Linked DNA regions of Homo sapiens. The protein of the gene in region 1 interacts with the protein of each later gene in a biochemical or structural test. Each region holds a gene or a part of one and is shown in the gene's direction. Other genes may lie near its edges. The genes, in order: NLRP3, HERC5, CD82 and MARK4.

What was found.
Region 2: the proteins of NLRP3 (region 1) and HERC5 form a complex in vitro, tested with the Homo sapiens proteins (one study listed by BioGRID).
Region 3: the proteins of NLRP3 (region 1) and CD82 form a complex in vitro, tested with the Homo sapiens proteins (one study listed by BioGRID).
Region 4: the proteins of NLRP3 (region 1) and MARK4 form a complex in vitro, tested with the Homo sapiens proteins (one study listed by BioGRID).

Annotation. Positions count from the first base shown.
Region 1 is NC_000001.11:247,440,167-247,447,191, forward strand, and holds part of NLRP3 (NACHT, LRR and PYD domains-containing protein 3), read left to right. Parts: intron 1-3,805; coding exon 3,806-3,976; intron 3,977-4,484; coding exon 4,485-4,655; intron 4,656-7,025. UniProt on the Homo sapiens protein: Sensor component of the NLRP3 inflammasome, which mediates inflammasome activation in response to defects in membrane integrity, leading to secretion of inflammatory cytokines IL1B and IL18 and pyroptosis.
Region 2 is NC_000004.12:88,488,098-88,495,122, forward strand, and holds part of HERC5 (E3 ISG15--protein ligase HERC5), read left to right. Parts: intron 1-1,068; coding exon 1,069-1,239; intron 1,240-4,914; coding exon 4,915-5,058; intron 5,059-6,067; coding exon 6,068-6,234; intron 6,235-7,025.
Region 3 is NC_000011.10:44,610,658-44,617,682, forward strand, and holds part of CD82 (CD82 antigen), read left to right. Parts: intron 1-4,614; coding exon 4,615-4,716; intron 4,717-7,025. UniProt on the Homo sapiens protein: Structural component of specialized membrane microdomains known as tetraspanin-enriched microdomains (TERMs), which act as platforms for receptor clustering and signaling.
Region 4 is NC_000019.10:45,247,109-45,254,273, forward strand, and holds the start of MARK4 (MAP/microtubule affinity-regulating kinase 4), read left to right. Parts: upstream 1-4,162; 5' UTR 4,163-4,480; coding exon 4,481-4,531; intron 4,532-7,165. UniProt on the Homo sapiens protein: Serine/threonine-protein kinase. Phosphorylates the microtubule-associated protein MAPT/TAU. Also phosphorylates the microtubule-associated proteins MAP2 and MAP4.

The DNA of each region.
Region 1 (7,025 bases):
TGGGTCCTCATCTCTGGCTGCATATTGTGTACTGCCTGTCTCAATACTGCTCAAGGGTCACACATGCTGAGCATTTGCAACATTGGTTTAATTATCATACCCCACCTTCCACCCCCGTTCTCTGACCTGCTCCTGCCCTCTTCCTCCTGCCTCATTGAATAGTGGGGCTTTCCAGGAGGCTGCTGAGTGAGTAAACGGGGGACGGTCCTAAATGCTCTGCTTTCGGTTCCCTCTACCACTCATCACTACACCAGAGGGAACTTTTTAAGATGCAAATTTGAAAATATTGACCCTTTGTTCAAAAATCTTCAAAAGTTCTTCTCTGCAGTCAGAGTGACATCTTAGCTTGGCACACAAGGCTGTCCCTGATACTGCCCTCTCTCCTGCCATACCTTGCACTCCATTTTGAGTCATATTGGATGAGTTTTGTTTTGCTGTTTTAGAGATGGGGACTTGCTATGATGCTCAGGCTGAATTTGAATTCCTGGGTTCATCTACAGCCATACCACCCAGAGTGCCTGATCTCATCTGCACTCCTGGGCTCAAGCAATCCTCCCGTCTCAGCCGCCCAAGTAGCTGGGACTATAGGTGGACATCACTGTGCCCAGCTATGAATTAGTTTTGAAACATCTTGGTGGTTCTTTTAATCTTCCTTATTCTTGCTACTCTTTTCCTTTTGCCTGGAAGGTTACCCCCACTTTCCCACTTTCTACTATCCATCTAAGAAGCTCCTACTTATTTTTTAATTACTGTGATCCTCATTTTGTCCATTTAAAAGCAGGGATAAAACTAACATTCCCATCTTGAGGTTGTGATCATTCAATGAGATAACCCTGTTTAAAGTCGTCATCCATGTCAAGCACACAATAAATACTCAAAAAATGTTTGATCTTCTTCTTCAGATTCCTTCCTTCCTTCCTTCCTTCTTCCTCCTCCTCCTTTCTTTCTCTCTTTTTCTTTTTCTCTTTCTTTCTTTCTTTCTCTCTCTCTCTCTTTCTTTCTTTCTCTTTCTCCCTTCCCTTCCCCTCCCCCCCCCCTTTCCCTTTCCCCTTTCCTTTCCTTATTTTCCTTTCTTTTCTTTTCTTTTTTTAAGACAGGGTTTTGCTCTGTGGCTCAGACTGGAGTGCAGTGGTAGGATCATAGCTCACTGTAGCCTTGAACTCTCCTGGGCTCAAGCAATCTTCCTGCCTCAGCCTTCTGACTAGCTAGGACTACAGGTGTGTACTACCATGCCTGGGTAATGTTTAAAATGTTTAAAATTTTTTATGTAGAGACAGGGTCTTGCTATGTTGCCCAGGCTGGTCTCAAACTCCTGGCCTCAAGTGGTCCTCCCACCTTGGCCTCCCAAAGCACTGGGATTCAGTTTTCATTATGAGACAGTTTTGTGACATAGGCAGGTAGTTAATAAATAAAAATCCCCAACCAATTAACTTAATACAGTACATGGCAAGATATCCGTGCTTGGTAAATGTAGAGCTCAGTTAGGTGGATTGGTTGAAATCGAGATGTCAATCACATTCCTCTAATCCAAGGATTGGTTGGTGGGACATGGTTGTTTGATTCTTTAAACATTTTATTATGTGTTCAGTGTAACCGTTGCTTAATAGTTACCAGCATTTTCACAATTTGGATATGACGTTTTCTTAACAAAACTGCACCGTCTGTTGCAATTTCTACTACTACTGTGTAGTGCTCCCCAAACATCTGTTGAATAATCCATTCTACTCCTTTTTGGAAATAGTGGTAAAGCCTGCATAACTTTAATTACATAATTTAAAAAATATTTTCTCTTTTCCTCTTTGAAGACCATCCCCATTCTACTAGAATGTCCCTGGCCTTTGCCAGGAATGCTACTAATCCCTTCTGCATGTTAATTAACAACAACCCTCTGATAGAATTCTTACCGGGGATGAGAGCTTAGTAGAAGCCACTCAAAACTTGCTTTGTTTTTGTCTGTCTCTCTTGGGCTTCATTTGCCTATTAGTCTTACTTACTGTGTCTTTTCAGTTTGACTCTTCCTTAATTGGGAAGATAGAAACCAGTGGATGGATAATCACTTTTTCCTGCTGGTCATCTGTTCATGCTTTACTGTCTGAATACACTTTTTCTGTATTTCTATTTTTCCTGCCTCGTAGACACCAAAGAGCTTAAAAAACATGCCATTGCCAAGGACTCTGGCAGGAAGGAGGCAATCACCTGCGCTATTCCTGGCTTCATGGAATAGAAGCATCTGTGCTCCTAGGAATTACGCCACCAGTGATTTTAGAGCTCTTATGCTCTTCCTGGGTGATAGAATGGGCTTAATTTGACTCAAGAATAGTACATCAAAACTCTTAATTCCATCGAGATTGATGCATTTTTGGGGTTTTATGCTCTAAAAGGCCTTTTGCTGTGCAGAAGGAAGAGAGAGGTGGACAGAAAGGGCAGTGGGGAGAAGATGAGACTAAAAGGTGGAAAGTCCAGGTCTGGATCCCTCCCCACCACACACCTGCTCTGTGGCCTTGAGAGAAACATGTAATTTTTATAAGCCTTAGATTTCTAATATGTAAAATGTATGTAATAGTTTTAGCTGCACTCCTTCCTTGCCAGGTTGATATAATAATCAAATAAGACTGGTCTCTGGGTCAGGCACAGTGGCTCATGCCTGTAATCCCAGCACTTTGGGAGGCCAAGGTGGGTGGATTGTCTGAGCCCAGGAGTTTAAGACTGCAGTGAGCTGTGCACTTGGCCTGGGTGACTGAGCAAGAGCCTGGCTTTTTCTATTTATTTATTTATTTTTGAGACAGAGTCTCACTTTGTTGCCCAGGTTGAAGTGCAGTGGCAATCTCGGCTCACTGCAACCTCTGCCTCCCAGGTTCAAGCAATTCTCCTGCCTCAGCCTCCCAAGTAGCTGGGATTACAGGTGCCCACCACCACCCTAACTAATTTTTATATTTTTAGTAGAGATGGGCTTTCACCATGTTGGCCAGGCTGGTTTTGAACTCCTGACCTCGTGATCCACCCTCCCAAAGTGCTGGACCTCCCAAAGTGCTGGGATTACAGGCATAAGCCACTGCACCTGGCCTTATTTATTTATTTATTTAGGCAGGGTCTCACTCTGTCACCCAGGCTAGAGTGTGGCAGCGCAATCATGGCTCACTGCAGCCTCGACTTCCTGGACTCAAGCGATCCTCCCACCTCTCCAACGTGGTTGAGGGCTGCAGCGAGAAAGATGTGAAAGGGGCATTTGGGGGCGCAGGAAGGCGGGAGGTGGCAATTGCTAAGGGCCCCGCCGTGTTCCTGTCACAGCCCTAGCTACAGCTTAGAAGGTCACAATGGACGTTCACCTGTTGTCTTTGATGTTTAAATCAGCACCGACTTCCCATGAGGAGGATTTTTTTTTCCTGTCTCTCTTAAAAAAAAAAAAAAAGGCCCCTGCAGTGTGGGTGTCTGCAGTGTTACGGGGATTATTAGTTGAGGATAACCACTGGGATGTGTTTCTGGAAGAAGTGGTGCTGAGGAGCACTCCTGGCCGGAGGAAAGCTGTGTGAGGAGGAGGAGGAGTATGGGGTAACTGGCTCAGTTTGCCTTGGCTCTTTCTGTCGGACTCATACAGCAAAGCATCTGCTGAGACATCATTTGTGTCTCCTGTGACAGCCAGAGACAGCAGGTCTTGCTCTCCCCAGATCATATCTGAGATGCTGGCTCCTGCTCTCTGAGCTGAAGGCTGCAGCTGCTGAGAGAGGACGAGGCACTGAGTCAAAGCAGCTGCACAATGTTGGGGAACAGCTGGGTACTGAGGACTCTTCTCCCTGTCCTTCTACAGGTTGGTGAATTCTGGCCTTACGTCAGTCTGTTGTTCAGCTTTGTCCTCGGTACTCAGCACTAATCAGAATCTCACGCACCTTTACCTGCGAGGCAACACTCTCGGAGACAAGGGGATCAAACTACTCTGTGAGGGACTCTTGCACCCCGACTGCAAGCTTCAGGTGTTGGAGTAAGTCCTTTGGTTTATTACAGCAATGAGAACACATGGTGGCCAAGGGTGGAGGGACGTTTAGGCAGAGTGGCCACAAGATAATCTGTATCTTAGAAGTGAGGTGTCTTCTTAGTGTTTGCCTTGTTACAGGATCATGGGACTGGGAGGAGTCCTTCCAGATGATATAGATGTAGGAACTTGAGTCCTTACCATCACAGTTTTCTGTACCACAAAACAAGGAGGGCAGTATGACACTTACATTTTATGGAAATGTAGGGAAAGGCACAGAATTTGGTAAATCAATGAACAAACCACTGTTACTAATTTGATCTGTGCAATGCAGTGGATTTGAAAAAGAGAGAGAAGAATAATTACCAGCATACAAGGCTGCTTGAAGCTAGTTAGTCCTGTGCTCCTGTGCTTTTTTTTTTTCCACCTGAAACAAGACAGGCTAAGATGCTAAAATCTTGGGGAGCTAGGGGGATGGTTAAGGGGACATTTTCTTTAAATCACCCCCTTTTTGCAGATTAGACAACTGCAACCTCACGTCACACTGCTGCTGGGATCTTTCCACACTTCTGACCTCCAGCCAGAGCCTGCGAAAGCTGAGCCTGGGCAACAATGACCTGGGCGACCTGGGGGTCATGATGTTCTGTGAAGTGCTGAAACAGCAGAGCTGCCTCCTGCAGAACCTGGGGTGAGTGTGCTCTGCAGAGATGCCCGTGGTGGGACTCTGAGTTCTCAGGAAACGTTGACTGTTATCAAAATCCAGGATGGCTCTCGCTTCATTTGCAGCCACTCAAGATTAGGTTGGGCCTGGGTCAGTTGTGGTGGATATTTTAAAATAGAGAATATGGGGTTAAACTACACATTCCACTTCACTGAGATGGTTAGAATCACCAAGGCTAAGCTGGATTTCACCCACATTCCCCAAAGAAACACAAGCCCTCATGCGATCATGGCCAAGGAGGATTCTGTTCTACACAAGGAACCGAACTTCGTAGAACTCGTCTATGGGTCATCCAAATTGGAAGGGTCTTTACATAGTGGGGATCTTGTTGTTTTGTTTCTGAGGATTTATTTTTTTTTTCCTTGAGACAGAGTCTTGCTCTGTCGCCCAGGCTGGAGTGCAGTGGCATGATCTCGGCTCACTGCAAGCTCCGCCTCCCGGGTTCACGCCATTCTCCTGCCTCGGCCTCCCAAGTAGCTGGGACCACAGGCGCCTGCCACCACACCCGGCTAATTTTTTGTATTTTTAGTAGAGTTGGGGTTTCACTGTGTTAGCCAGGATGGTCTCCATCTCCTGACCTCGTGATCTGCCTGCCTCGGCCTCCCCAAGTGCTGGGATTACAGGTGTGAGCCTCCGTGCCTGGCGGTTTCTGAGGATTTCTAAATGGGAAAAGAGTGCTCCAGGAATAGCAAGATGGGAAATTACACGAAATTCGACAGTGTGTCAGGATATTGCCAGCCCACCTCTGTGATACTACTGAGGTAGTCGTCTCCTCTCTAGCAAGAGCTTCCTGGCGAGTCCCACGGTTCTGTCAGCCGTGATGATTGCACTTTTCCCTGAAGACGTTTTCACTGCTTGGCTTTAAGGCCAACATGCTCTCCTGGGTTTTCTCCTATTTCATCAGATCCTTCTACTCAGTCTCCTTTCTGGCCTCTTCTTCATCATCCTGACCCTTATGTGTTGAATCCTCAGAGCTTAGTCGCTGGGCTAATTTTTCTTCCCTACACTTTCTCCCTCATTTAAATTATCTGGTCTTCTGGCTTCATGATATGTGTGCTGTGGCCTCCAGATTATATGTCCATAAATTCTGTGTCTCCGTGCTTGGCTGATCTTTCTTCTTGAAGGTTTAATAAACCTCTCAAACGTCACATCTAGATCCACACCCTTGCTACTCTCTTCTACCCGAAACCTGATTCTTCCCCATTTCAGTCGATGGTCACTTCCTCCAAGTTGCTCGGGCCAAAACATTTCTGGTTCTGTCGTCACTGTCTCTTTTTCCTTATAATCATGTCCAATGTGTCAGCACATCCTGTGAGCTCTGCCTTCCCAGCTTGGCCACTCCCTGACCACTTCAGGCCAGCTTCACGGCTTCTTCCTTGGCTCAAGCCACCATCACCTGGTGTCTGGATTGTCATGGTGGCATTCTGACAGGTCACCCTGCATCTGTTATTCTGATTTTAGCAGACAAGGGATTCAGCTAAAACGTAACTCGCATCATATCACTCTTGTCAACATCGTCTTCTTATCACTTTCATAATCAGAGCAACAAACTCATGGTGGCTTCCATGCCCCACATAATCCAGCCTCTCCTGCTTCCGAAGATTCCGCTTCTCCCAACCCTTGCTTATTCTGCCCCAGTACAGTGATCTCCTTGCTGTTTTGCAAGAACACTGTCATCTCTGGATTTTTGCACTTGCTTTTCTTCTGGCCTAGAACTCTCTCCCCTTCAGTATCCACCTGCATTATTCCCTGTACCTTCCTAAATTCTCTGCTTAAAGGTCTTCTCTGCGAGGCTGTCTTTGACTATTCTACTGAAAATAGAAGCACTTTTTCTTCTCTTCTCATTCTCCTCTGCAGTGTAGCACATCTTATGTGCTATGTCATTTTCTTGTTTATTTATTATCTATCTCTGCTCCCAAAATATAAATTCCATTAGTCCAGGGACTTCTGTCCATATTAATGATCTCAAGGCTGAGAACTTGTTGGAATGCAGGTTTGAATAAATACAAGTTTGAATCAGCCTTGCATCCTTGTGCCAACATAATGGAGCACATTTGCTGCAGGACAAGCCAATATTCCCAGAGCTAAGAGAGATGGGGGAACAAACAAAGGATTGGTCAGGTCAAAGCTGGGGACACTGCTACATGTAGCATCACTGACCTAGCCCTGAGGGACATTCTGGACCCAGGCTGAGGGACAGGCTCAAAATAGATTGAAGAATCCATGAATGCAATCAACCCGTTTTCTCAGGCTGCGATAACAAGCTGCTTTAGACTGTGTGACTCAAACACAGATTTATTATCTCACAATACTGGAGGCTAGAAAGTCCAAAATCAA
Region 2 (7,025 bases), on another chromosome or scaffold:
AAAGATAAAAGAACTTTGTTTTGCTTCAACTCTTATAACCTATTCTCTCCTGATTTTAAACAAGGTTCCAGAGATAATTTCGTAGAAGTAATATTTGACTACTCCTTTTTCTGCTAAAAGCATAGACTTTTTTTTTCTTTTTTTTTTTTTTTGAGAGAGAGTCTCCCTCTGTTGCCCAGACTGGAGTGCAGTGGCATGATCTTGGCTCACTGCAACCTCCACTTCCTGGGTTCAAGCGATTCTCCTGACTCAGCCTCCCGAGTAGCTGGGATTACAGGTGCCCGCCGCCACACCCAGCTAATTTTTGTATTTTTAGCAGAGACAGGGTTTCACCATGTTGGCCAGGCTGGTCTCAAACTCCTGACCTCAAGTGATCCGCCCGCCTCAGCCTCCCAAACTGCTGGGATTAACAGGCGTGAGCCACCGTGCCTGGCCCTGAACCATAGACTTTAATGACCTAAAATTGCCATTTGGTTTCAGAATGGACATTCTGTCTGTCTGTCTGTCTCTCCCACTCTCTCTCCCTGCTTGTCTCTCTTCAATTAACTTCTTAGGTAAATTCTCCCTTAAAATCTCTTGTCTTGGTTTTTTTTTTCCTGGAGTAGGCTCTTTGGTGACATCTCTCATAACCTGGATTTTTTTTCCTGCAGCCTGTTTGCTTTCTAAACATCTGAACTTCTCTTCGGAATGAGAGAGCATCATGTTGCAGTGCACTGTTTCAGTGGATACCAATACATCTCTTAGCCTGTTAATAAGTAGCTTTGGTATCTTAAGCATTAATAATTGTGTGTATAGGAGAAAGTGGTCCTTTAAAACCTGCAGTTGGTAACTTACTTGCTCATCCAGCTTGGCTCCACAAAGGCTTTGATTCTTCAGGTCCCTTGTTTCCTCTGCTCACTGAGACTAAATACTGATGTTATCATTTATCTTCAGTGGTGCATATAAGGTTCTTTTCATAAATGTGACCTGCACTTATAAGCAGAACCAGTTTATTCTGCTTTCCAAATTTTTACTTAGAGAGGGCCAATGGTAAAATGAAGTGTAATATTTCTGTTTCTGTTTTCCTAGAGTAAAAAACATAAAGCTTATCTTAGGTCGGCAGCAATTGAGGAAGAAAGAGAGTCTGAATTCGCTTTGAGGCCCACGTTTGATCTAACAGTCAGAAGGAATCACTTGATTGAGGATGTTTTGAATCAGCTAAGTCAATTTGAGAATGAAGACCTGAGGAAAGAGTTATGGGTAAGGTGTAATTCTCACTTAATGTTTTTGCTGCTGAGAAAAGAAAAACATAAAAGAATGTGGCAAAGGGTTTCATAGAGAGGAAGTTATCTTCCTTTGCCACAGAGGTTGTTTATTTTAGGGTTCCTCTGATTCCCTAGTTGCCTTTGAGTTTTGGGTGATAGCTGTGGGCACTCACTCAGTATGTTTGGGCTAAGGAGCAGCAGGCAAAGTGGTTGTTCTCCCCACACCCTGCTCAGGTAGATAGTTCAGTGTTGGCCCTAAGAGGTCCAGTCCCTTCTGAGGTCTGGCCTAGCCTGGCTAGCACCACCCTTGAAGGGTTTCAATGAGATGGTTAGCATAGAGGAGAATTAAGGGGTTGTTTTTGTTCTTATGCAATAACCTAAATTGGGACAGGCATGGTGACTCACACCTGTAATCCCGGCGCTTTGGGATGCTGAAGCAGGTGGATCACCTGAGGTCAGGAGTTCGAGACCAGCCTGGTCAACATGGTAAAACCCTGTCTCTACTAAAAATACAAAAATGAACCGTGTGTGGTGGTGGGTGCCTGTAATCCCAGCTACTCGGGAGGGTGAAACATGAGAATCACTTGAACCCAGGAAGCAGAGGTTGCAATGAGCCGAGATCATGCCACTGCATTCCGGCCTGGGTGACGGAGCGAGACTCTGTCTCAAAAAAAACAAAAATAATAACCTAAATTGCTTTGTAGAAAAGAGAATTTTCTCTTTAAATCCTACAGTTATTTTGGGGTATAATTGTAGATTTGACCATGTTCGGAAGATCTTTAACTGATTTTTTGTTTAATTACCATATAATTTGTCTTATTAGTAAATATTTGATACTGAATCATAATGACCAGTAGATCTTTTGAGTGCTGTCCTTGTGGCAAGAACTGTTTTAAGTGCCTTATACCTAATTTTTTAACCCTTTCAACAACATTATGTGGCAGATTCTGTTTTTCCCTCATTTTACAGATGGGGAAACTGAGGTACAGAACTATTAGGTAACTTATCCAAGAGTAACCCAACTGATAAGCATCAGAGGATTTGGGCCTGGCCATTAAGCACTAGACTTTCTGCTTAATGAAGACGGATAAAGATTGGCCTGATAATATTTAGTAAATGGAGTATTTTTTATTGGGGACCTTAGTTTATCACTTCTCCTACTCAGATTAAAGAAAGATTGACTTTACCAAGTCTCAAGATACCAATTTAAAAGCATATTGCCCCAGACACAGTGGCTCATGCCTGTAATCCTAGCACTTTAGGAGACTGAGGTGGGCAGATCACCTGAGGTCAGGAGTTCGAAACCAACCTGACCAGCATGGTGAAACCCCATCTCTACTAAAAATACAAAAATTAGTTGGGTGTGGTGGCGGGCGCCTGTAATCCCAGCTGCTTGGGAGGCTGAGGCAGTGAGAATCTCTTGAACCCAGGAGGTGGAGGTTGCAGTGAGCCAAGATTACCCCACTGCACTCTAGCCTGGGCGACAGAGCAAGATTCTGTCTCAAGGAAAAAAATATATATATTGCAGTTAGAGTTGGTATTTCCATGTATTTTTGCACACAGATAATTGTATAACTCTAATGGACTCGTTATGTGATTCTATGCTTTGCCAGTCAGTCTACTCGATTATTTGAGTTCCACTTTTATATATTGTTCATTCAGTTTTTAAATTCAGGTAACACTCAGCATTTACCATTTGCAGGCTCTGTGTGAGGCATTTTACATGTATGACCCCTGTAATCTTTCTGATAATCTTGTGGGAAAACTGAGGTTTTATGAGGTTGGGCAGCTTGTCCTTAGTAAGAAGAGGGGGAAGGGTTTGACACCTGGTCTTGCTACAAAGATTTTTAGTATTTCACTATTTCACCAAGAGGAATGGAAGAGGCAGCATCTAAATAAATAAACTGGTAAGAGGAGATTTCTGGGGATGCTAGTATAACATCTGGGTAGAAATGTTGAACAGGCCGTTGGAAGTGACTGTCAATCAGGAGAGAAAATGCACTGAATCTGAAGGTTAAATACGTATGGGTGGTAAACAAAGTTTAAGGAGAAAATGAGCATCCAGGGAAAGAACAGAGAGAAAGGACAGAAGTGTTAGGATAGAACTGTCTGCAATTCTGTTTCTAGAAATTAAGCCAGCAGGAAAAAGAAGAGATAAATAAAACCGTGAAGAGTGCTTCATAGGAGAAAGCAAGGGAGAAGATTGTGTCAAGGAAAAGGACATGATCAGAAGTGGAAAATGAGTTAACGAAATCAAGGAGATGAGATATGAGAAAAAGTCCTTGGAGCTTGGGGATTTACAGTTCTTGTTCTTCTTGGAGAGACCCATTTAAGTGGAGAAGTGGGTTTGGAAGTTGGCGTATATCTCTGAAGTTTGGCAAGAGTGGAAGGAGCCCGTGTTTGTATTGGAGACAATGTGTTGGGATTTTTTTTTTCCTTTTAAGGTTAAGGGGGACCTTAACATGTTTGTGAATGGAAGTGAAGGATTCCAGGAAAAGGCAGGAATGGAGGGGTGACTGAAGGAGCAAAGATGGGTTATGATAGCATCCTCTTGGGAGGGATTGGTGTCAGCAGTAGGGGTGCAGCCTCCTCGGGGAGCAAACAGCCACTTCAGCAAACACCTTATGTGTGCTCTGGTTTTTTGAATATCCTGATTTTTATTATTTATTTATTTATTTTTGAGACAGAGTCTCACTCTGTTGCCCAGGCTGGAGAGCAGTGGTGCGACCTTGGCTCATGGCAACCTTCATCTCCCGGGTTCAAGTGAGTCTCCTGCCTCAGCCTCCTGAGTAGCTGGGATTACAGGTATGCATCACCACACCCAGCTAATTTTTGTATTTTTAGTAGAGACGGGGTTTCACCATGTTGGCCAGACTGGTCACGAACTCCTGACCTCACATGATCCGCCCACCTCGGCCTCCCAAAGTGCTGGCATTACAGGTGTGAGCCACCACGCCCGGCCAATTTTTATGATTTCTTTCTGTTTATTTTTATTATACTTGGATCTGGTGACTATAATAGTGATGCCAGTTGAGGTCAATTTAGGTAAAACTTTTACCTAAAGTGGTAAAAACTTTAGGCTCTGGGGTTTGACTGATAAAGGATTAAATTTAGGCTGTAGGCCGGGTGTGGTGGCTCATGGCTGTAATCTCAGCGCTTTGGGAGGCTGAGGTGGGTGGATCACTTGAGGTCAGGAGTTCAAGAGCAGCCTGGCCAACACAGTGAAACCCCGTCTCTACTTAAAATACAAAAAAATTAGCCAGGCGTGGTGGTGCATATCTGTAATCCCAGCTACTCTGGGGGCTGAGGCAGGAGAATCGCTTAAACCCAGGAGGCGGAGGTTGCAGTGAGCCGAGATCAGACCACTGCACTCCAGCCTAGACAACAGAGTGAGACTCCATCTCAAAAAACAAAACAAAACAAAAAAACTAGGCTGCACCACCTGACTATTGTATAAACTTGGAAAAGTTATTTAAATTCTCAAGGCCTCGTTATCTCATAGAATTAATGTAGAGATTAAATATGATAATATAAGTAGGATACTTACCTCAGTGCCTTCCAAATACTTGGGTCCACAATTAATGTTAGCTATTTACTATTATTAAATGAGACTTCATATATAGCAATATAGAGCCCTGGAAGTGATGTATTATTTGCTCTGTTTCCTCAGGTTTCATTTAGTGGAGAAATTGGGTATGACCTCGGAGGAGTCAAGAAAGAGTTCTTCTACTGTCTGTTTGCAGAGATGATCCAGCCGGAATATGGGATGTTCATGTATCCTGAAGGGGCTTCCTGCATGTGGTTTCCTGTCAAGGTAAGTTCCCTCTTCTTTGCTTAAGGTATTTTGCGACAGAAAAAGTACACCATATACCATAGAAAATTAGTTTGTCTAGACTATTTCATGTTAGAAGAGGAGTATTGATATAATTATGGAGATAATGTATAATTCTAATAAGGTGATTATTTTCTTTAAAATGGAGTTTCCTTTTCCTGGGTTCCCATGTCTGTTCACATCGAACTCAAGCAATATATTTTTTGATCATTTATATAATGCATGGATTAAAAAGGAACCCTCTCTTTTTTAGGTACTCATTCTTTGTGTCAGTTCTGTTTTCCTAATGAATTTGAAGACAAAGGCTGTGGAAAGAAATTGTGAAAACTAGTTTATAAGGATTACTGAACCTAATGTATTTTTATTGCTGGTATGCTTTTAGGAACCAAAACTGTGGCAGGGATTTATTTGGTTTTTTATTTGTTTGTTTGTTTTGTTTTGCTTTATTTTTGAGACAGAATCTCACTCTGTCACCCAGGCTGGAGTACAGTGCCATGATCTTAACTCACTGCAACCTCCGCCTCCCAAGCTCAAGCCATTCTCTTGCCTCAGCCTGGCGGGATTACAATAACTGGGATTACAGGCTCCTGCCAACACACCTGGGTAGTTTTTGTATTTTTTGTAGAGATGGGGTTTCACCAGTTTGGCCAGGCTGGTCTCAAACTCCTGACCTCAGGTTATCTGTCCACCTTGACCTCCCAAAGTTCTGGGATTACAAGCGTGAGAGTGGCAGGGATTTAAATTGACTTAATGACCAAATATTAGGTTGGTGCAAAAGTAATTGCAGGTTTTGCCTTTACTTTTAATGGCAAAACCTGCAATTACTTTTGCACCAACCTAATATAAACCCTAAACATTCTTATCTCAGGCTTTAAATTTTTCAATTTGAGATTTGATTTTATGAAAGAGAAACAAAGATTTATTTAATATAAATATTTCATTGTACTGGTAAAAACTCATAATACTTTAAGATTTTTTTTTCGCTTTTCAGCCTAAATTTGAGAAGAAAAGATACTTCTTTTTTGGGGTTCTATGTGGACTTTCCCTGTTCAATTGCAATGTTGCCAACCTTCCTTTCCCACTGGCACTGTTTAAGAAACTTTTGGACCAAATGCCATCATTGGAAGACTTGAAAGAACTCAGTCCTGATTTGGGAAAGTAAGTAAACAGAGTTCCTGAGAAAGGACCCTTTCTAACATATATTTAGGCAAATATTTAAGTACACACGCTTCATAATATTTCCATGTTCAACAGCAGCATTTTAGGTACTTTAGACCAGTTTTAACTTTGACAAGAATTGTTGGATGATAATTTCGTTTTCTAAAATTAGGAAGTGTTGATTATTCCCATAACTAGACTTCAATGTTTGCATTAATCTTTCAACTTTTTCTGTGTAGGAACAGTCATGCACAGAGCACAGGTTACACCTTGGTGCAAAATCTGCTAGTGATATTTATGTTAAATGTTGTTTCATGTCATCACCTTTAAAATGGAAACTTATTTCTAAGTTAAAAGACAAGCCACCACCTCACCAAAAAATGGCAACAGTAAAAGGGTTTTCATATCCCTGCTGTGTAAAGCATTCCTACACATCCGTAAGAAATATTCACAAAGTATCCAAGAAGGCAACCTGGCAAAGAAGCAATAGAAATGCTTCCTAAATAAAAATGTCTTCAATCTCACCAGTGCTCATAGAATGCATATTAACGTGAGAGGCTAATTTATACTTCAAGTTGACAGTGGTTTGAAGTGTTGATGCTATATAGTATTAGCAAGGGCTTGAAAACTTTCATTTTAATTTCAGGTATTATTCGTGGAAATATAAATTGGTACTCCTTTTCAGAGAACAGTGTGGCAGGACTTAGCAAAATCAAAACATATTTGCCTTTTCAACTCAACAATTCTACTTCTAGACATTTAACTTTCAGAAATACACAACCATGCAAGGA
Region 3 (7,025 bases), on another chromosome or scaffold:
TCATGTCTCTGCTGCTTTCTATCTATGTGATCTTGGGAAGTTGCTCCAACTCTGAGCCTCATTTTTCTCTTCTGAGAAATGGGGAGGAGGGAGACAGGGAAGACAGGGCTGGCTTCCTCGGCATTCAACCTATGCAGTCACACAGGATAATCTGCTGTTGCTGTATTGAAATTCTTTTTTTTTTCTTTTCTTTTTGAGATAGAGTCTTGCTCTGTTGCCCAGGCTGGAGTGCAGTGGGATGATCTCGGCCCACTGCAACCTCCACTTTCTGGGCTCAGGTGATCCTCCTGCCTCAGCCTCCCAAGTAGCTGGGACTACAGGCACACACCACCAGGCCCAGCTAATTTTTGTGTTTTTAGTAGAGATGGGGTTTCACCATGTTGGCCAGACTGAACTCGAACTCCTGACCTCAAGTGATCTGCCCATTTCGGCCTCCCAAAGTGTTGGGATTACACGTGTGAGCCACCACGCCCAGCTGAAATTCTTAATAATTTTTAAACAAGGGGCCCTGCATTTTTGCTTTGCACTAGGTGTAAATTATGCAGCTGGCCCTGGGCAGGACTCTTTATGGCATGTGACAGTGACTCAACTGAAAGTAGCCAGAGCCAGCAGAAGGCTCAGCTGGATCCCAAAGGCTGCTGCTGTCCCTATTCACCCTTCAGCCCTACCCTCCTCTGTTGGCTCCCTTCTCGGGCAGGCTGTCCCCAGTGGAGCCTGAGGGTAGCCCAGGTCCTCATCCTACCACATTGATGGAAAGAGGGCCGGGTATGTGAGCATGGGTCTCAAGCCCATCTCTGAACCACTCGCCGTGCCTGTGATGTGGATGGCACTGAGTGGCAGCCCAGGTCTTTTGCCTGCTTCTGGCATCGAGGGAGTGGGGCCTCCTCAGCTCCATGGAGAAATAGAAGGGTGGTTACATCCAAGGAGTGGGTTTCTGCAGGGCAGGCAGAAACAATGGAGCGGTCCCTGGGGGGATGGAGGGAGCTCATGAATGTCTTCTCCTGCTACCTCCCTGTCCTTTTTGTCTCAGTAGCTACCTGGTTGCCAGGGTGACCTCCCTGCACTCCCAGCACAGGCCTCCTGAGCATCAGCTCCAAGCTGAACCAGCCCCTGTGGCCATGGTCCCCGTGGCCCAGGTGTGTCCCTCAACCACATTCTGGACTGAAAGATGTTGTGGTGTTTCCATGGAAACCACCCATCTAGGTGGAAACCACCCAGCTTCCATCACCTTCTCATTTCAGGGAGGCTGGGAGAGAAACAGGGAAGTCCAGGCTGCTGTGACAACCACGCTGGGGTTTAAACAGAGCCTCAGTGCAACATGTTGTGAGGAAGCTGGGTGGGTGGGGAAGGATGTGGGAGAGGCAGCTTTCCGCACAGATGCTTCTAGAGAGCCCCTCCTTTCCACACCGTGGGGATCACCCACCCACTGGGGTTGAGAGGTGGACCCGAGATGTCAGATCACCTGGCAGACAGCCCCAGCTATGTGACTCAGGCAAACCACTTAGCTTTTCTGGGCCCTGGTTAAAACTGGGTATAGCCGTGTGGTTTAAATGCCAATAAAGCTTAATAGGTAAAAACCTGGGTTCTGAAATCAGCCAAGCCTGTGTGCAAACCTCACTTCTTCCGCATGTTGGCTGTGTGACTTTGGGCAAGTTAATTAACCTCTCTGGGTTTGTTTTCTGCATCTCTATAATGAGGGAATGGGGTGAATACCTAGGCCATAGGTCTGCTGTGAAGATTCAGTTGAGATAATACATTTAAAGTGCTTACCACAGCACCAGGTACATAACAAACATTTGATAAAAGTTAGCCACTATTAGTGTTGGGATTAATTACTGACAGGAAAGCTTTGTAAATTGCAGAACTCTGTATAAGGGCTTTTTTTTTTTTTTTTTAAATATCATGCTGAGAGCTTTATTGAGAGAAGGGCAGGGAGCGTCATCAGAGGCTGGTTTCCCAGCATTAATTTTTTTTTTTTTTTTTTTTTTTTTTTGAGATGGAGTCTGGCTCTGTCGCCCAGGCTGGAGTGCAGTGGCGTGATCTCGGCTCACTGCAACCTCCACCTCTCGGGTTCAAGCGATTCTTCTGTCTCAGTCTCGCGAGTAGCTGGGACTACAGGCACCTGCCATTCACACCCAGCTAATTTTTGGTATTTTTTTTTAGTAGAGATGGAGTTTCACCATGTTAGCCAGGATGGTCTCGATCTCCTGAGCTCGTAATCTGCCCACCTTGGCCTCCCAAAGTGCTGGAATTACATACGTGAGCCACCATGGCCAGCCCCAGCATTAATTTAACCAAGGGAGCTGGGTGAGGAGCCAGGGCTGCAGGTCCATCTGCAGGATATGGGTTCTCTGAGCACAGCGTTCATTCAAGGACTGCCCATGGGGAGCTGCTGGAAGCTCCACCAACAGGGTTCCCTGGGAGTCAGGCTCTGAAACCCCACCTGGAAGTACCTGTCTCATTTCTCCCAATTCTTCCTTCTCAGGAACCGAGGTGGGAAGGTGTGTGGCCTTCTCCTTGGCATCCCTGCCTTCTAGGGTCCCTCGCCCCCACTGCCTTGACCAGTCCAACCATGCATTTGCCCTGAAAGGTCTCTGGGCAAGGTCCATGTGAGAGGCTAGGTGGAGCCAGGCAGGGGCTGGCTCTCGGAGGCTCCCCTCCCACCCAGGCCTGCTTATCGCCGAGGGAGGCCCTGCCCTCAGCGGGCTCTGGGTTTGCCTCCTTTTGCACAACTGACTTATTTAGAAACCCCTTCTCTGCCTGCTTTGTAAATCAGTGTTTTCTCTGTGGGGTTAGCTGAGAGCAGGTGCTGCTCTCCACCACAAGAAGGAACCCTTAATTCCTGAGCAGGGTGAGGACCAGCATAGGCAAGATGTAGATTTGGGCCAGGCGAGGTGTCTCAGGCCTGTAATCCCAGCACATTGGGAGGCTGGGCTGGGTGGATCACTTGAGGTCAGGAGTTCGAGACCAGCCCGGGCAACATGGCGAGACCCTGTCCCTGCTAAAAATACAAAAATTAGCCGGGCATGGTGACTCATGCCTGTAGCCCCAGCTACCTGGGAGGCTGAAGTGAGAGGATTGCTTAACCCCAGGAGGCAGAAGTTGCAGTGAACTGAGATCCTGCCACTGCCCTCTAGCCTGGGTGACAGGGAGACCCTGTCTCAAAAAAACAAAACAAAGCAAAACAAAAAAAAAAAAGTGAGATGTTTTTGGAGCTCTGGGGCAAGTAGCCAGGTCCCAGAAAGGCAACTGACCTCACACTCCGGCTGGCTGGCACTGCTGGCTTGGGGCTTGGGAAGGGGTGAGGGAGGATCTTTTCTGTTTTGTTTTTTGTTGTTGTTGTTTTTGTTGTTGTTTTTGTTTTTTGTTTTTTGAGATGGACTCTTACTCTGTCGCCCAGGCTGGAGTGCAGTGGTGCGATCTCGACTCACTGTAACCTCCATCTCCTGGGTTCAAGCAATTCTCCTGCCTCAGCCTCCTGAGTAGCTGGGATTACGGGCACCCACCACCATGACTACATAGAGGGAGGATCTTTTGACCATATAGTTGATACCGAAGTTCCAGGTCCCTCAGTCTTGGGGCCCCCTCCAGGCATCTACCCTGCTGTCTTGGGGGCCCTGTTTGGAGAGGCTGCACTCTGGTCCTTGGAAGAAGGAAACTGAGCTGGGCTTTCCTCCCTGTCCCTCCTTCTCCCTGAAGCTGCCCTGTGGGAGGTGTAAGGATTCACCAAGAAGTTGCATGGGTCTGGCTCTGGTGCCTGGCAGACCATGGTGGTTAGGTGTGCATTCAGCATTCACGTACCCCACACAACTATTCTGTGCCAGGCTTGGCGCTAGCCACGGGGGACCCTGTAGTGAGCGTGCCAGATGTGGTCCCTGCCCCCACGGAGCTGATGTGCTAGTGGAGAGAGATGATAAGCCCTGAAAACCAACAAGCATGTAACGTCAGTGCTCTAAAGAGAAATACAGCATGCTTTCCCTTGTGGGATAAGGGAGGCCGGGGAGGGGTGGTTGATTGGTTGGGGGAGAGGGGATGGGGAAGGGCTGATATTTTGTAGAGTGGTCTGGTAAGGCCTTTCTGAGGAGGTGACATTGGAGCAGAGCCCTGAAGGAAGCAGAGGGTGAGCCATGTTAATGTCTAGGGGAAGAGCATTCCAGGCGGTGGGAACAGCAGGTGCAAAGGCCCCAAGGCAGGAGTGTGCCTGGCACAAAGACAGCACAGAAATCTAGTCAGTTGAAGCAGAGGGAGGAAGAACAGAGGACAGAAGGCCTGGGGAGGCAGACAAGTGGTGTAGGACCTCCTAGGCTGTTATGGGGACAATGACGGTGGGAACTGCCCTGGAGGTGGGAGGCCCCTACGGGGTTTTCAGCAGTGACATGAGAATATTGATGTTTACAGGGCCAGGCTGCTGCCAAGCGCAGAAGAGATAGTGGGGCAGGAGTGGTTGGCACTGCCTGCATCGGGCACCCTGGGAGCGCCAGGAAAGTGGCTGGAGCCATGAGCGTGTCCCAGGGTTGCTGAGGGGAACGGGGGGAGGCAGTTTAAGTAGGGGTGACCACAGGTGGGCACGGGTTTCAGGAAATCTGACCCTGACCTTTGTCCTCCCCCCTGCAGCTGAAGCAGGAGATGGGCGGCATCGTGACTGAGCTCATTCGAGACTACAACAGCAGTCGCGAGGACAGCCTGCAGGATGCCTGGGACTACGTGCAGGCTCAGGTGAGGTGGGGCGGGGCTGCAGGAGGCTCTCTGGCCTGGGTGTCCCTGCATTTGGGGCTCTGTGCACCCACATGTCTGGGACTGGCATCTGCAGTGCTCGTGTGTGCCTGACAGTTTGTAGGAGAGTGTGCTTCTATGGGGGCAGGGCACCCCAGTTAGCACCACAACTCCCTGCTCAGGGGGCCCAGAGACTCAGAGGCAGCTTCACAGCTCTGTGCTCCCATTTGTGGCCAGAGAGCATGGGGGCAGTTGTCAGCCCTCTTATCTCAAGCTACACTGGGGAGCGTTGGGAGCTCCACTCTGGGTTTTAGGAAACTGGGAGCCAAGGCTGATATGCTGAGAAGTCCCAGTGAAGGCTGCCTCTGGGGAAGGGCACTAGCTGGGGAGGTGTTGGGGAGCCTTCTAGGGCAAAAGGAGTATTTTAGCCAAATCTTGATACTGGTTTCGCCAGTATGTGCACATACGTAAAAATGCACCAAGCTGAATGTGTGCCCATTAGTTCATGTGTATTATACCTCCATTAAAGTGAGAGAGATGGATGGATGGATGGGTGGACAGATGGACGGACGGACTGACCGACTGACCAACAGATAGACTGACCAGGTTCCCAGCCTGTCTCAATAGTGATCCAATGACCACCTGGCTCTCCTTTCTTGTGGTCCCGGATGCTGCATGTGCCCTTGGCTGGGACCTGACATCTCTGATCTGCAATCCTGTGAGGGCGCAGGACACAGTGGTCACTTAGGGCCTGTTGACACCTCAGGGGAGGGATGTGGAGTACAAAGGGCATGGGCAGCAGGAGAAAGCCTGACTCAGCGGCACCAGGAGAGTTTGCAGAGAGGACACTCCATCTAGGTGACATGGACATGGCCATTTTCTCAGTGGAGGAAGGGGAGAGCGATGTTTTCTGGCCCTGACCGAGGAGATCAGGTGTGGGGGTTGTGGCAGCTGGAAGGCTTGGTGCACACAAGGAAATGTTTTGGTCGCATATGTAGTTTGACCCACAATTGCTGAGACTTTGCTAATTTTAGCAAAGTCTGGATGTCACCAGTGACATAAACCAGTGCCACCTGACAAGGGACCTGGGAGGAGAAGTGGGTCCCTTGGGAGGTGGTAAGCATCCTACCCTGGAAAGTCATTGGCTGGTTCTAGATGATTCTGATGCTGTCAGATGCTGCTTAGGCCGGTGGTAAGTCAGACTCCCAAGGCCTGGAGTGCTAACACTGCCACAGCCGCTAGACCTTTGCTGAGCCTGCTTCCTCATCTATACAATGGGGCTACTGACCCATGCCGTGTGAGATACATTGTTAAAGCCTGAAGCACTTAGGCAGCATTTATTATGTGGTATGTTGGTGGTGATGTTTTAGTCACCATGCACATCCATGGAGACACAGGCGGAGGTGGCGTGTGCTGCTGGGGACCAGGTACAGCCGGAGTCAGGCCAAGGGGTTGCTTGGAAGGAGGCTCTGTCGTAGACGGGCCAAGGAGACCTGCCTCATTTTGCTCTGGTGTAGGATGGCCTGTGGGTGCCCCCAGCCTTGCAGACCTGTGCACCCCTCAGAGGTGCCAGCCTTTTCTTGGAGAGAGGAGGCAGCCCGGCTGCTGGAACAAGCACCTGTAAACCTGGATTAGAAACTGCCTGGAGCTGAGCATTTCTGAGTGTGCCTGGCACGCCCCCTGCTGGCCACTGGCTACTGGTCAGGCGACACCCCTCGGAGCTAGGAAGGAAGCGGTCCAGGAACTGACCCCTGCTGTGACCGTGGCTATCCCATTGAATCCTCCCAGGAACCCCCAGCATTGCGGGGATTCACACACAGAGACCTCCTTTAGCACACAGAGCCCGGAAAGGCTTTCTTCTCTCTAGAACTAGAGCATTTTCTCCTTTAAAATGGCAGAATTGACCAGCTAGCCAAGGTGGCTCACACCTGTAATCCCAGCACTTTGGGAGGCCGAGGCGGGCGGATCACTTGAGGTCAGGAGGTCAAGACCAGCCTGGCCAACATGGTGAAACCCCGTCTCTACTAAAAATACAAACATTAGCCGGGCGTGATGGCGAGTGCCTGTAATCCCAGCTACTCAGGAGGCTGAAGCAGGAGAATCGTTTGAACCCTGGAGGTGGAGGTTGCAGTGAGCCAAGATCACGCTGCTGCACTCCAGCCTGGGTGACTGAGCAAGACTCTGTCTCAGAAAAAAAAAAAAAAAAAAAAAAGGCGGAATTGACCCCGTCTCCTTTTTCACTTTTCACTTTTTTTCCTTTTCACCAGGAAGCTCAGAGGCAAATCTCAACTCCTGCACTAAAGTTGAACGGC
Region 4 (7,165 bases), on another chromosome or scaffold:
CTCGGGAGGCTGAGACGGAAGAAATCGATTGAACCCAGGAGGCAGAGGTTGCGGTGAGCCGAGATTGTGCCACTGCACTCTCCGGCCTGTGAGACAGAGTGAGACTCCATCTCAAATAAACAAACAAACAAATAAATAAATAAGATAAACTGTGTTCAAGTGCTCAGGCACAGCCTGAGGGGGATGCGTGATCACTGGCCTAGGCAAAGTCCAGGCTGGGATCAGGGTTGGGGTCAACATTAGGATCGGGGGCTGGGCTTAGGGATCACAGCTCCCTCCTGGATCCAAGGGTTAAGATTCAAAGGTCTGAATGCCCCAGTTGAAGGAATGAATTCACCAGACATAGGTTGTGGAGGAAGGGCTAGCTGGATGACCAGGTCGGGAGGCAGAGGAACAGGCCTTGCCCCCCAGCTCGGCCTCTGCACCGCGGACCCATGGTCAGCAGTGGCCCATCATGTACTGGGATCGTGCAGGATTTCCACCCCGCCTTATTTATTTATTTATTTATTTATTTATTTAGAGACGGAGTCTTGCTCTGTCGCCAGGCTGGAGTGCAGTGGCGTGATCTCTGCTCACTGCAACCTCCGCCTCCTGGGTTCAAGCAATTCTTCTGCCTCAGCCTCCCGAGTAGCTGGGACGCAGGCGCTTGCCACCTGCAAGCGCCCGGCTAATTTTTTGTATTTTTTTTAGTAGAGACAGGTTTTCACTGTGTTAGCCAGGATGATCTCGATCTCCTGACCTCGTGATCTGCCCGCCTCGGCCTCCCAAAGGGCTGGGATTACAGGCGTGAGCCACCGTGCCCGTCCCCCTCCTTTTTAAAAATTATTTTTTTTATTTTGATTTAGAGACAGGGTCTCACTATGTTGCCCAGGCTGGTCTCGAACTCCTGGGCTCAAGTGATCCTCCCGTTCTGGCCTCCCAAAGTACGGGGATTACAGGTGTGAGTCACCGCGTCCAGCCCCCTTTTTAAATTTTATTATTATTTTTTATTGAAATACAATTCACATACATAAGAGTCACCCTTTTCAAACAGAGTCCGGTAGGTTTTAGTATATTCACAAGGTTGCAGCAAGCGTCACCACTATTTAATTCCAGAACATTCTCATCACCCCAAAAAGAAACCTGGTACCCATCAGCAGTCATTTCTCATTCCCCAGCCTCCAACCCCTGGCAACCATTAATCTACTTTCTGTCTATGGATTTGCCAATTCTGAATATTTCATATGAATGGAAGCATACAGTAAGTGGTCTTTTGCGTCTGACTTCTTTCGCTAAACATGCTGTTTTCTTTTTTTCTTTTTTGAGACGGATTCTCACTCTGCCGCCCAGGCTGGAGTGCAGTGGCGCGATCTCAGCTCACTGCCAGCTCCGCTTCCCGGGTTCACGCCATTCTCCTGCCTCAGCCTCCTGAGTAGCTGGGACTACAGGCGCCCGCCACCGCGCCCGGCTAATTTTTTGTATTTTTAGTAGAGACGGGGTTTCACCGTGGTCTCGATCTCCTGACCTCGTGATCCGCCCGCCTCGGCCTCCCAAAGTGCTGGGATTACAGGCGTGAGCCACCGCGCCCGGCCACATGCTGTTTTCAAGGTTCATCCACTTTGCAGCCTCCCTCTCTGTAAGCCTCGGTCCCCCCACATCTGGGAAATGGGGTGGGGACGCTGTTGGGGAAGGGAGGGCAGGGGTGGACCCTGGAGTGTGTGGGGCGCGTGTAGGGAGGTGATCGGCTGCCCCCGTGTGGTGCACGGTAGAACTGCAGCTCTCAGCGCCAATGCAGGGAACGGGTTGGGGGCGCTCAGCCCCTCTAGCCTACCCCCAAGACCCCCACTTTCACCCTGCGGCGTCCCTGGGATCACAGTACGTCTAGAACACTACCCCGGAACTCCACCCTCTCTGCCACTGTCCCTGAGGCTCCTCGGGCCATATTTGCCAAATAGTAATAATAATGTCCCCACATATGAATTTTGAATCTGGTCCCCTGTGAAGCACTTTACTCAAAGATTCTCATTTATTTGTTAGCAGTAACATTAAAATAACAAATAAATATAAACAAATTGACAAATAAAAATAGTAGCAGCCTGAGGTTGCTGCTATTATTTTTCGGAGACAGGAAACCACAGTGGTTGAGAGAGGGTCCAAGTTCTGGAACTTGGGAGCACTTGGATTCAAATTGTAGCCCTGCCACTAATTTGCCGTGTGACCTTCAGCGTGTGACGTTTCTCCCTTCCTTGGGCCTCTGTTTCCTCATCTGCAAATGGGATTGATAAAGATGCTCCCTACCTCTTGGGGTGGCAGAAAGGAGAAACTGCTCAGAGCCTGGCACAAGGGCAACTGCCATGAGTCTGTGTTGCTCATAGTATCAAGCAGTGCTGTGCTTTCACAACCAGCTTTTGGCTGAGTGCAGGGTAGTCCCAGCACTTTAGGAGGCCGAAGTGGGAGGATCGCCTGAGCCTGAGAGTTGGAGATCAGCCTGGGCAATATGGCTACAAAAAATTAGCTGGGCGTGGTGGTGCACACCTGTAGTCCCAGTGACTTGGTGGGGCTGAGCTGGGAGGATTGCTTGAGCCGGGGATGTCCAGGCTGCGGTGAGCCATAATCGTGCCACTGCACTCTAGCCTGGGTAATGCAGTGAGACCCTGTCTCAAAAACAAAACAAAGCAAAGCAAAACAAAACACCCCCAGCTCTCTGCAGGTGGGGGTGTGGAGCCTTAATTTGTAGCATTTGCCAATTTCCATGGTGTAAATATTCCCACCATGGCTAATTTCAAGCTACCAAGGTGATATCACATGGCATTTTTGCCCCCCATTATATAGTAATTTTACTGTGCAGCTACAATAGACGTAGGTAACCTCAAGATCACAGATAATGGCAAATGTAGTAAGATAACTAGGACGTGATGAGTATGTATTACTTGTACCTTTAATGTAATTTAATTGTATGTTTGCATAATTTAATTTTTAATAATGGCTGTGTTTAACAACCAGTTCCAAAATTCCTGAGACATAACAATCAGCTCGCTCCAGCCAGATCCAGCACACTGCTGTTTTAGAAGGGGAAACTGAGGCTCAGGAAAATAAGCCTCAGATAGAAGAAGGCAGGGCACAGACCCCTTCCCAAAACCATGTGACTCCCAGGCCAAGACTATGTAATGCCTGTCTTTCTTTCATCCCACCCTGGTCCACAGAGCATGGATGGTCCCCACAGCGCTGTGTGGCCTCCGAGAGGCTCTTGTCCTCTCTGGTCTCAGCCTGCCCGCATGGGGAGTGGCTGTGCCCTGCAGGCGAATACCTGCACAGGGTTCCTTCGCACCTGCCAGTGAGCAACACACGGATTCTTCCTTTCACTTTACAAACTGGGAAAGTGAAGCCCAGAAAGGGCAAGTGCTTGCCCCGGGTCATACAGGTGGACAGAGAGGGTCCCCACACCCCAGCTGGGGTGCAAAGGAGTGGATGCTGCAGCCCCAACCTGCGGGTCTGGATCTATGTGGCTGAGTGGAGGCAGCCTGACTAGGGAGGTCACTGAGCCCTCAGCAGTGGCCAAGCCCCGCACACCATCCCCTTCACCCACCCCACCCTTAGGCCTCCGAGGGGAGAGCTTCCCCCGCTCCCCCCCGCCAACTGGGGAGAGAATGGGCCAGGGGGAGGGACAATGTGGGCAGCGCCTCTGGGGTCTTCTCTGGCTCAGTCCCTTTATCTCTATCTCTTCACAGATCTCTGCGTCTCTGTATCTCTTTGTCTCTCCCTGTGTGTGTGTGGGGTCTCTCTCAGTCTTTGTCCCTCTGCGTCTCTGGGTCTCTCTGTCTCTGTCTCCCTGCGTCTCTCTCTCTCTGTCATCTGGCTCTTCCTTCATCTCCTTGCGCCTCTCCACCCTTTTGTAACTCGTCTCTCTCTCTTCGTGTCTCTCTATCTCTACGTCTCTCGATCTCTCTCTCTGCGTCTCTGGCGCTCTGCCCCGGCCTCTCTCTCCCCTTCTCTCCTCTCCAGTGCGCCTCTCGTCTCGGGCGAGAACACGCTCCCCGCCGGCGTGCCCAGACCCGCCTCCGCCCCCGGAGCCCCCGGAGCCCCCGGCGCCCCGACCAGCCCGGGCCTGCGCCTTTAAGGGCCGGCGGCGGGGGGCGGGGTCCCGGCGCCCCGCCCTGCCCGCCCCTCCCCCTGACGTCCCTTCCTCCCTCCCCAGCCCCTCCACCGCCTCCCTCCGCCGCCGCTTGGGCCGGCTCCGCGCCCCCTCCGCGGCCCCCGCCCGCCCGCCTGCCCGCCGCCCCCATGGCGCCCGGGGTCCCCGCTGCACGGGGCCACTAGGACCCTCGGCGTCCCTTCCCCTCCCCCGCCCTGCCCCCTCTCCCGCCGCGCGGACCCGGGCGTTCTCGGCGCCCAGCTTTTGAGCTCGCGTCCCCAGGCCGGCGGGGGGGGAGGGGAAGAGAGGGGACCCTGGGACCCCCGCCCCCCCCACCCGGCCGCCCCTGCCCCCCGGGACCCGGAGAAGATGTCTTCGCGGACGGTGCTGGCCCCGGGCAACGATCGGAACTCGGACACGGTGAGTGGGGCCCGGCCCCTTGGGGAGCCCTGGCTGGGTCCAGCCGCCAAACCCTTCTCCCCGTTGTACCCCTCGCCCCGCGAGCCCCTACCCTCGTTTCCTGGGCCCGACCCGGCTCGTCACCTCTCGACCCCTCCCGGACTTCCAGGCCTCTCCACCCTCCCCACCTTTTCCAGCCCAGCCCGACCCCTGGGGGCGCCCCTCTCTCGGGACCCCTCTCTTGTCCCCGTGCAGACCGCTTCCGCTCGGGTCTGTTCCCTCCAGGAAGCCCCTTCCCCTGCTTCCAGGAGCCCCTCCCTTCTCTTGCCTGTGCTAAGCCGTTTCCCCTCCAGGCCGTCCGCGTCCGACACCTCGCCCCCTCCCGGATTTGCAGGGCCCCTGACCCCCCAAGGCCCGGCCCTGGCACTCTCAGCAGGGCCTGGCCCAGTCCTGCCTCTGGCTCCGGCCTTCCCTGTCTGGGGCTGGGTGCCGGCTCCCCAGGAGCCCCCCTCCTCTTATTCCCAGCCCTCTGCCCCTCCAGGACGCACCCAGGGCGCCTGTGGGCAGCCCCTGGCAGGAAGCTGGTTTCCACCTCTCCTGGGCCCCGGCCCTTTTCTGGCTTCTTCAAGGTCTCTCCCGTCCCAGGCCTGGTCCCCATCTTCCAAGCAGCCCTGTCCCTAGATCCCAGCACCCCGGGGCCCCCAGATGCCACCTGGACCCTTTCTGGTCTCTTCCTCTCCCAGGAAGCCTTGGCCTCCAACTTCTAGGCCCTCACCTCACCCAGGCTGGTATTTCTAGGCCCTGGACCAGTCTGACTCCAGGCCTCATCCGCCCTCTATCAACTTCTCAGCTTCAGGCAGCCCCTTCCCCAACCCCCAACCTCTGGACCCCCTGCTAGGCCAAACTCAGACCCCTTCCCCACAAACCACCGTCCTTTCTCCTGCCCCAGGGCCTCCCCCTTCCTTGCTGGGAGTCTGGCCTTCCAAGGAAGCCCCCTCCTCAGCTTCAGAGGCCTTCCTCAGCTACAGGGCCTGGCCCCAGATCCTTCTTCCAGAAAACTCCTGGACCTGAAGCCTCTCGTCTTGCCCTGGTTTCAAGCCCTTTTCCCTTGGGTCAATCTGCTGGAAGCTTTCTCCCCAAATTTCTAGACCCCTTGACCTTCCCCAGGGCTCAGCCTTTATTCATCTGGGCTGCTCCTTGCCCAAGAAGTTCCTACCCCATACTTCCAGGCCCCCCAGACCCTTCTCTGGTTTCAAGGACTTCTCCTAGAAGCCCCCTTCTCTGATTCCTAGGAGCTTCCCCAAGACCCAGGGATTCCTGGCCTCTGACTTCCACTGCCCCCATGGCTTTGTCACTTTCCACCATTCCCAGGCGCCCCCTGCCCCTACACTGCTTCCCAGAGAGGCCCCTCCCCATCTCCTGTGTCTCTGATCACTGATCACTTCCAAAGACCTGCCCACCACCCAATCCTAGACTTCTCCCCACCTGGGATCTTTGTGGCTTTCTCCAAATCCTTCTGCCAGGTCCCTGTTCCCCTTCCCCCTGTTTCCCTCACCTCCGACAGACCCCCCCACACACACACACCATCAGAGAGATTTATATCTGTCCCTTCCTCATCTTGCAGATCCCTCCCTCACAGAGACCACCCCGCATCATCACTATGGGCCAGAACTCCAATTTGGAGTCTAATGAAATGCCTACCACCTCTGTTCCTTGGTCACTACAATCTACAGTGAGGTGCCAGGGGCTCCACAGTCCTGGGTTCCAATGCTGACATGGCCAGCTGGTTTGCCTTGTGTCCTCAGACAACCAGTTCTCCCTTTCTGAGCCTCAGTTTCCTGCCCTGGAAAATAGGGGTGACCGCTTGAGTGCCTCCAAGGCTTACTCGATTCAGGCGAAGGCTGGCACCTAGGAAGCACTCCACAAATGCCAGCTGCTATTGTGGCTGTGGGTATGAGTCAGACAGCCCGTGGATTCTCAGCTCAGGGCTGTTATTGGTTGTTGAGTGAGCCTGCAGATTCACTCCCAGCTTGCAGCCTCAGTTTCCTTATCTCTAAATCGGGTTGATGATGGCCCCCCACTGTTAGGGATGTTTGCAGGAGCCAGCGACGTGATGTGACTAAGGTGCACAGGGCCTGGCATGTGTCGTGGCTGTTGTGGTTATTAGCACTACTTTAATTGTTCAGATAAACTTGGGTTCACATCCTGTTTCTGTCCCTCCCTAGCTGTGTGACCTCGGGCAAGTAACCTTACCTCTCTGAGCCTTGGTTTCCTTGTCTGTTAAGTGGAACGCCTAATGAAGACTTGCTGTTCCCTGGGTTGTTAAGATGCGTGCATGGTGCGGATTTGAGGATGGCTAATCCCCTTTTCTCTCCTCCAACTCTTGTCACTAAGACCTGCCTGTCAGTCCTGGTGGGGAGTCACTTGCCTGCCTCTGGAATGGGAGGTTGCAGCCCCCTCTCCTGTTACCTGGTTACCATGGCTACAGCCACGTGGGGTCATGCTCCCCCACCCCAAGTTCCAGGGCCCCCCACCAGGGGGCCAGCCTCCCCAGGTTCCCTAGCAACAGTCCCGGGTGTTGGGGCGCCAGCCGGGCGGGAGGGAGCCAGGCCAGCTGGTGGTGCAGGCCAATTTTAGCTCCCACCCCCGGCCCCC